2 linked regions of the Homo sapiens genome follow. The protein of the gene in region 1 purifies or fractionates together with the protein of each later gene. This does not show direct contact. Each region holds a gene or a part of one and is shown on either strand. Other genes may lie near its edges.

What was found. The genes of interacting proteins can lie anywhere in the genome.
Region 2: the proteins of ARFGEF3 (region 1) and PTH purify together in Homo sapiens (affinity purification with western blotting, with the first as the bait; one study listed by BioGRID). This does not show direct contact.

Annotation. Positions count from the first base shown.
Region 1 is NC_000006.12:138,341,624-138,345,750, reverse strand, and holds the end of ARFGEF3 (brefeldin A-inhibited guanine nucleotide-exchange protein 3), read right to left. Parts: 3' UTR 1,088-4,127; downstream 1-1,087. UniProt on the Homo sapiens protein: Participates in the regulation of systemic glucose homeostasis, where it negatively regulates insulin granule biogenesis in pancreatic islet beta cells. Also regulates glucagon granule production in pancreatic alpha cells.
Region 2 is NC_000011.10:13,493,184-13,498,268, forward strand, and holds the start of PTH (parathyroid hormone isoform 1 preproprotein), read right to left. Parts: upstream 2,815-5,085; 5' UTR 2,728-2,814; intron 1-2,727. UniProt on the Homo sapiens protein: Parathyroid hormone elevates calcium level by dissolving the salts in bone and preventing their renal excretion. Acts by binding to its receptor, PTH1R, activating G protein-coupled receptor signaling.

The DNA.
Region 1 (4,127 bases):
GCCTATCTTAGTTTTATTTCATCCTTATGATGGAAGTGATTGAGTCTTGGTGGTGTAACTGAGACTACTAGTGTGTATGCATGATAGAATCATGACTTAAGCTTATAAGCAAAAATTCAATTTCCATAGCATTTTGAATGTCTTTTACCCCAAGCTTGGCTAAACGGCAGTTTTCTATGATTTGGGCAGGGTGATACCTAGGCTGATATATTATAGACTTACAATCTTTTTTTTAAAACGTTTTCTTTTTAAATATATATATATATATATATATATATATATATATATATATATATATAATTTTTTTTTTTTTTTTTTTTTTTTTTTGATGGAGTCTTGCTCTGTCGCCCAGGCTGGAGTGCAGTGGCGCAATCTTGGCTCACTGCAAGCTCCGCCTCCCAGGTTCACACCATTCTCCTGCCTCAGCCTCCCGAGTAGCTGGGACTACAGGTGCCTGCCACCACGCCTGGCTAATTTTTTGTATTTTTTTTTAGTAGAGATGGGGTTTCACTATGTTAGCCAGGTTGGTCTTGATCTCCTGACCTTGTGATCCGCCTGCCTCAGCCTCCCAAAGTGCTTGGATTACAGGTATGAGCCACCATGCAAAAAATTTTGTTTTTAATTGACATCACTAATTACATTAATTGTACATATTTATGGGGTATAGTGTGATATTTTGATATATGTGTATTTAAAACAATAATCTAGTAAGATCAGGAAGTTAAAAGTGGCTGTATTTTTTAATATTACTTTTAAATACTAATATTCTTATTAATTGGATTTTTGGTTGTTTATGAACAAAAGGTAATACTTTAATTTTTTAAATGAATGATCTACATCAATATCTACTGACAGTAGGAATTTGATATAAGTTCTTATGAGTAAAAGATAATATCATAGAATAAGCCCTTTTTTTAAACAAGGAAATGATATATTATTTCTACAAATTTGTTTTTTAGGCATATACCAAATTGTCAATAATGACTATCTCCATGTTACAGGATTTAAAATGGGCCTTTACATTTAGACTTATGAAATGCCATGAAAAGGGGCCTAATTCTTTTGACAGAATTCTGTAAACACAGGATATTTATATATATTTATTCAGTAAACACAATTGTTTCATGTACCAGATTTTTAATGCATTTGAATCTTTATTCTACAACACAAGCAACATAAATACAATATCTTTTAAAATATTTTCTCTTTAGAATTTTCATTTCCACCTCAGATAAAATGTACACAAAATACACTTGCAAGCTTGCTTACAGAGACCTGTTAAACAAAGAACAGACAGATTCTATAAAATCAGTTATATCAACATATAAAGGAGTGTGATTTTCAGTTTGTTTTTTTAAGTAAATATGACCAAACTGACTAAATAAGAAGGCAAAACAAAAAATTATGCTTCCTTGACAAGGCCTTTGGAGTAAACAAAATGCTTCAAGGCTCCTGGTGAATGGGGTTGCAAGGATGAATTTTGCATTTTATAGGTAAAATGGTATACTGACTCAAATCATTATGGCTATAACAAGCTTCATTTATTTATAATCTTCAATGAAAATAAGTTGATTCTTTGGCATAATACTATAAGGAATAAAAGGACCCATACCACCCACTGGCTTTATCTAGAGTGGGAGATAGTAGTAGGGGAACTGTTTATAATGTAATTTGTCTAAGTTTATTCCTCTTAGAAAAGCGGGAAAAGCATATTGAATAATAGTCTCTTAGCATGATTAGGGCAATAAACATCTTATTCTTATCTGTCCCATCCCCACAACACAACACTAAGAAACAAAAATAACTTTTCCCTCTAGGCACCTCCTCCTGCCCCATCATGCCACACCTGGATATTCTATCACATTGTTTCAACTGAAGTGAAACCCAACTTATCAAAAGCATTCATCTTTGTTCAGCTTTGCCTATTTTGTGGGAAATCAATTTTTATTAGAGAGAAGCACTCCCAATAAGAACCAGATGAAAGAAATGTAGGACAAAGCAGCTTGCACATAATCCCGAGGTAGCCAGGGATGCTCACTGGGGCTGGCAGTGTCAGGGCCCGAGCCTCCCTAACTTTAAGAAAAAACATAATCTTTTACACATTGGTTCAAAAGATTGGCTTTTGGATTCCCTCCTCTCCTTTTTGGCACTGGTTGGTAAAACAAAAATAAATTACTCTTAGAGATTGACTTTTGAAATTTAATTTTAAAATCAGTGTTACTAAAAGAACTAAATGCACACATAATTTCCAAAAATTATGGGAAACTAAAGTAAAAAAAAAACCAAAAAAAAACACCCTTATTTCCATCCACAGAGGCAAAAACTCTGTAGATTGTCTCCTTGATATCATCAACATTCTGATATGCTTTCTGATCTCACTAATTCTAGTAAATATAATCATTTCCTTCCATTCCTACAATAGTCTAAACTAATTTAAATGAAGTCAGCATATTTATTAAGCAGAAGTCTTTAGAGAAACCTCATTGAATCAATAAGCATTATGTGTAATTAATACAGTTTATAAATAGGTGATGATTTTTAAGTGACTTGTTTTTTCTTAAATCATTCTCTGTATGGTCCTTAATTTTTTTTAATGGTAAAAGAATTTCCAAAACTAATTAATTCAGTAAAGAAGAGATAAACTAAGGCCCCCTCTATATGAGTTAACATGATTTCACTGAATTCCCAAAGCACACTGATTCACTTTTATATTTTTCCCATTATTTGGAAGATGAAATAATGAATATGGTCTCCACCATGTAGATATGTGCACAAACAACATATTTACTGAAAAGTCAAAAACAGGCACACCTGCTGCTTAAAAGGGAATTAGTTCATTTTGCAAATTTCCGTGAAGCCTTTGGGTAGACTCTTTACAGATATATATGAAATTAAAATGTTAATTTACGCCAGAAAATTAAATGAAAGATGAAGGTACAACAAGTAGTCTCATCTCATCTCAAATGGCTAATATTTTGGTGGCCAATGAAAGATGTAAAACAACTGGCAAGCAAACAACTATTCAAAAATCTGTAAGCCAGGAGCCAAGGCTGTAAAGGAGCTGACATGGAAACATCTCATTAAAACGACATGGATGGAAGAAATTCAAACACTACATACTTAAATTTAAAATCACCTTCAGTACAAGTCAAAGGGTCAACATGATACAAATGATCATCCATAGAATCAATGTTTCTAAATACAAAGACAAGAAGCTTAGATTTATCTCACTGTTCCATAGAACTTATACATTCATTGTCTTCTAGCTTGTAAAAACCAATTGTTGGTATAATAAAACTGGAAACTGGGAAGATTGAGCAAGACTGCTGTATAGAATCCAATCCCAAGTCATCTGCCCAAGGGTAGATTCAGTTTTTCTCTAGCGTTTGATAAGTCAGGCTGATCTTAAAGGTAGAAGTTGGAAATTTTTTCAAGGCAGTGGTTCTCAAAGCATAGTTCCCAAAACAGCAGTATTGGCCTCACCTATAAACTTGTTAGAAATACAAATTTCCTGATTTACTTAACTGGGAACTCTGACCATGAGCCCAGCAATCTGTGTCTTATTTTAAAAAAAGGCCCTCCAGGTGATGCTGATGTGTACTAAAGTTTGAGAACCACTGTTCTAAAGACAGAAGATACTAGACAACCACTGGTTAAACCTTCAGGATAGGAATTAACAGTACGAACAGTTGTTGGTGGTTGAAAAGGGTGGAAGGACCATAATTAGATGGGATTCACCAGCAGTGGAGTGCTGTTTTGTCACTAAAGTGGTCAGCCACTCTCTCCTCCCTGGTACCCCTTTGTAGTATTGTACAAAGATACAGAGAAAAGGTTCTGTATGGTGCTAGTGGTGTGGTAGTGGTTTCTCTTCAATGATGGAGTGGTACCACAATTTATAAAGAAACCAATGATCTCAGGAGATATTTTTGGTCTGTCTTCCCTGAAATAAGAATTGTGTTTTGGAAATCTAAAGGGTGTTCTGTTCCAAAATCTTAAGTTATTAGTTATTTCCACATCAAATAGCAAACACTACAATACAGCCAGGGAAAGAGGATCTTCCAAACAAACAAAAAAGGTATGTTTTCTAGATTGCTCCACTACTAAATGAGAACTTTTTTTTTTGAGGC
Region 2 (5,085 bases), on another chromosome or scaffold:
TTTCACAAACAGTATAAAGAATGTACTCCAATGATATTAAGCGGCAACTACTCACCTGAAAAAGAAAACATTGTCTCTGAAATAATTCCTAATTATACAATTTTGCAAACTAATAAGCACTATAAATATTAAAATGTTAAGACTTCAATGTATAATGTCAATAACATCCTGCCTTTTTAAAATTGCTTAAAACATTTGTTAAAGATCATGCAAAATAAACACTGTATTAAAATGCTAGATTACACTCAAACATCAAGGCAATGAAACACAAAAGAGCAACTATTTAGCACAATGACTGGCCAAGTAAATAACTTAATCAGCATATTAATAAAAATCCACTGAGTGATAAACATCAAAAATGTAACACTGAATCTAGATAATCACGCATCTGCGATCTCACCATCTACCGTCCTAACTGTGACTTGGGGTAAACTGCCAGAATTCATTCTGCATAAATGAGCTATGTTAAAATGTTAGCAACATTTCATTGCATGATGACAGAGTACATTTCTAGTCCACACAGTACTTCAACGTGATCATTCTCTTAACTCAGCTAATAACTAATGGAAAGTACAGTTTTACAGTCATACCACTTATGTATATACATATATTTTACCCTTGCTTTGTTACATGTTTTTAAATTTTTTTTAAAAAAGTATTTCCTTTCTTATGATCCTCCCCCAGAATTAACATGCTGACTTAGGAAAAGACGAAGTAGATAAAGTCTATCCTAGTATAGAGAGCAATGGTTTACTTTTACCTAATTAAATATTTCCTTGTCATTTATCAATTGTCACTGACCTTTTTTATGTAATTATTTCCTCATTCACTCATCTATAAATATTTATTAGTGCCTGTTGTTACCCATGTCTCCTTGATTTTCCAGAAAAATAATTCATGTTTTTTTTTTCTTCTCATTGCTAAGCTCACTTAGAAAAATTAGGCACCATTTAAAAGACTTGGAGAACAGACCAGCGTGGCTTCTTGGGCACAGCTGGATGGTGCTGGAAGCCAGGCCTGGGATTTGGAGAGAAGAGTCTCCAACAGATAAACCCACGGAGGTCACCAGCCCTCCCTGCATCTACTCTCCTAACAGCTCAGGATGGCCCTGTTACACTACTGCCAGCCCTGGTGACTCGCTTTCTTAGCAATTTTTAAAGCCCTCTTCATTATGTACTTCCTACTTAAAATTCAGAACCTCTGTGATAAGCAATGCCTCTGTCATACAGAATGCTGGATCTCAGTTTACTGAGCCTCTCCCTGTAGTGTCACAGGCTGTGCACTCACCTAGATGAGCCCCTAAGAGCAGGGTTTGCTTCTGCTTCATCTAATGCCACATCTTCCCTCAAATGTGTGGTCACCAAATGTTCTGCAAAAAGGGTCTCTAGCTTTTTACTTTTCTTTTTGGCAAATTAAGCCCTTTAAAATACTTCTGACCTATCTTTATACTCAGATCTCACCTCATCTCAAGTTTTATGGGGTAATGCGCCAGTGAAAGGTACAGTGGTATTAGTGAGTTCTGAAGCTTCTAATTACATAGACAATAGAGGCTGGCTGGTGAGCCATGCTTCTCATGCTCCCTTCTGTCACACTGCAGAAATCTTAAGCTACAAGAGGAATGAAAGAGCCTATTTTTGAGAAATCCCCCCGCACTGCATTTTATGTTGATTATACCTAAATGTTTATAACTTGCTTGAAAATGCCTAATTTTCTTCATAGTGTAAATTGTTAACACTATTTACGTAGCAAATCCTTTTCTTAAGTAACCTTCATTTCAGGCATTGTAATAACCATAAATACCAAACTAATAGGTGCTAATCTAGAGATTTTCACTAAATTAATTCACATTTCTCCTAGCATTAAAAATAATGTGTCAAAGCATTTAAAAATCATCTGATTAATTACTTGTGATATGGATTTCGAGCTTTATCTCTGAATGGAATGCTTGTTTGTAGCTTATTTCTTCAACTTATTTTATTAACAATTATCTTTTAATATAACTTTTGTCTCTTTCCTCGTTTCACATCAGTATAGGATATTCTTGCCTTAATCTGCATTTCAGTACTTGCAAAGGCTGTTATTATAGAAGTGCTTTTCCTTAATGCTCAGTGTACTACCTTTTAACATACACATAGAGTAGTTATGTACTCCTATTTTACAGGGAAACTGCATCATTTAGAAATAGCATAGGAAATACTGTTTTCAGAATACAGCTGTCATTTATGTAAAGGAAATAAATATTTACTAGTCAAACTGGGCTTATCCAACTTTAGTATACAGATTGGGCTCTTTATGAGCCATAAAATAAATAATCTAGATAAGAATACTCTGCAGGAAAAACAGAATATTAACTCCACTTAATAAATTTATAAAGATTATTTAAATCAGAACTATTCATTCACCATCAACCTGTTTTATTTCAAAATTTTGACACCGATACTATTATATTAAAGCATAGCATGCCAAATTTTAATGATTTTTTGTTGTAATTTCAGATGAGGTTTTAAAAGGCAAGGTATCTCAGAAGACTTTAATCAAAAAGGATTTTGTGATTTGAGTAGCATTAATTTATTTTGTATGTGGCATTTTATATTAAACATAACTCAAACTTCTTAGCATTTTACCTTGAAGAAACAACATGGTATTTGTAGAAATGGTACACATTAAATAATAACTTGATTATCAAAATCTCATGAGATTCAGAAGTGAATTTTTAAGTTTACTTACCATACAATGTCTTAGAACAAGATCTTCGTTCAGGTATGTTAGTAGCTGATGCTGAGTAAACTAAAGACAACTGATGAATTGGACTGCAGACCCCTTAAATGGTGACTTTTATATATAGGTCTTCTGCTTACCAAGAGAGGCTCTTTTATTGTTACAGATGATGTCACTCCCAATTCTCTGGATCTCAACTATAGGTTCAAAGCAGCACATACACACACCCATTGGGCGGTGCACACTCTTCTTAAGTTTCAGATAATTGGATACTAAAAGGAAAACAGCATTTGGCTTGACAAGGGGCTTATGCAAAGACTTTTAACAAATACAGAATTATACCATCGAGAAAAATTCTATGTGGATTAATGAATCTGAATTTATACTGTAAAAAGACTGATTTCAAAGGTTTATGATAAAGTCATTATCTTACTTGAAAATAAAACCCAAAAATAAGTGTATTTGTTATAACCGTACTGTTGGTACAGTTTTTATGGTAATAAATCATAAATGTTAGGCTTACTTTACAAGCCATTTTCAACCAATCCATGTCACTTCTGGTCATCTTTCAAAAAACAGATATAGCCCTTTTCTTAAAGGAAGTGTTAAGAATAATTTGAGAAAATGCTCTTAGTACATAATTACTTTAAAAGCTTCAAAAGTGAAATTATTTTAAAATTTATTTAACTTATATTTTATTTGTGCATCTTAATCTATAATAATAACATTTGATAAGCACTAACTGCATGCCTAACTACATATATTATCCCACTAGATCTTCACAGCAGTCCTTTAAAGTTAGTACTTAAAGTACTAAAGTTAAGTGCTTATCCCCATTTTTACATGAGGAAACTTAGGCTTGGAAAGCAGAAAAGATGGAATTCAACAAAGGTCTTTATGACACCAGATTCTTACTACCTCAGTTTCTGCCTAGAAATACAGCCCTTCTTTGAACTCCAGTCTTCTTGACTTTAATTTGCAAAGTCATCTGAAAACACAGCAAAAGCTCTTTGCAACATTTTCCCCTAGGGGTTAGGTCTTTATTCTCATGTTCCCTAAGGGATGATGAGAGCCTGCTCCAAAACCTATTGGAGGCATGATGCTGCCACATGTCTGACTTCAAATATTCCTCCAGCAATATTTTCCTGGTCCACCTGTCAAAACACCCTGAATGTCTTTGATATATCTAGGACTCCTTTAGACAGCTTTGCCTTCCCACCAAAGATCCGGTGCCAGAGTGGGATCAGTTCTCTCAGCTCTGGTCCCATCCTGGCTTCATGTCATCCTTTTTCCTACTAGCCATTGTCAAGGTTTGACTCTACCTTAGGTAAGAGCCAGTACAAATTTGAATAGTAACCGTATGGAGTTTATAATGAGAGATATATACTAGTCCTGTCCTAGGAGATTCTCCACTCTGGGTTAACCTCACTTAGAGTGTTGCTCCAGGCTCCATTTTAGAAGCAGTAGAAACAAATGGGAACATACACTGAGGATATCAATCAGTTTGGTGAAAATGTTGAAAACTATAACATGAGAAGTAGTTGAATGAAACTAGAAAAGTCTGAGGAAAAAAAGACGGGATGACTTTATAGCTGTGTTTAATTATTTATAGGGTTACCATAAGGAAGAAGGAGTATTCTCTGTGGTTTAAGAAGGAAGGGCTGGGTTCATTGGGTTTAACTTGGACATTATAATTGTCAAAATAAGGAATCAAGTACCTTCTCAAATAGTGATTTCTCCATCACTGAGAATATTCAAGTAGAAGGTAGATGAGCATTTATCAGGCATACTATAGAGATTCATACATAGAAGAAAGTTGAACTAGATAACCAAGAGGTCTCTTTTAACTGTAAAAATCTGTTGTCTTGATCTTTTTAAAGACCTCTTCTGATGCAAACTCTACATGTGATGTTTGTGTGTCATTTTTCTGCTATACTCTGTTGAGAAGAAGAATTGGAAATACAGATGGTTTTTCTTTTTTCTTTGAGATAGGATCTCACTCTGTCACTCAGACTGGAGTGGTGCAGTGGTATGGACATGGCAGCCTCAACTTTCGGGGCTCAAGCAGTCCTTCCACCTCAGCCTTCTGAGTAGTGGGGGCTATAGGCACACAGCACCACAACCAGCTAATTTTTAAATTTTTGTGGAGGCAGAGTGTAGCTAAATTGCCCAGGCTGTCCTTGGCTCAAGCAGTCCTCCCACCTCTCGCTCCCAAAGTGCTGGGATTACAGGCATGAGCCACCACACCCAGCCACTAATGGATTTTTATTTTTTAACTTTTAAGTTCAGGGGTACATGTACAGGCCTGTTATATAGGTAAACTCATGTCGTGGAGGTTTATTGTACTAATTATATCATGACCCAGGT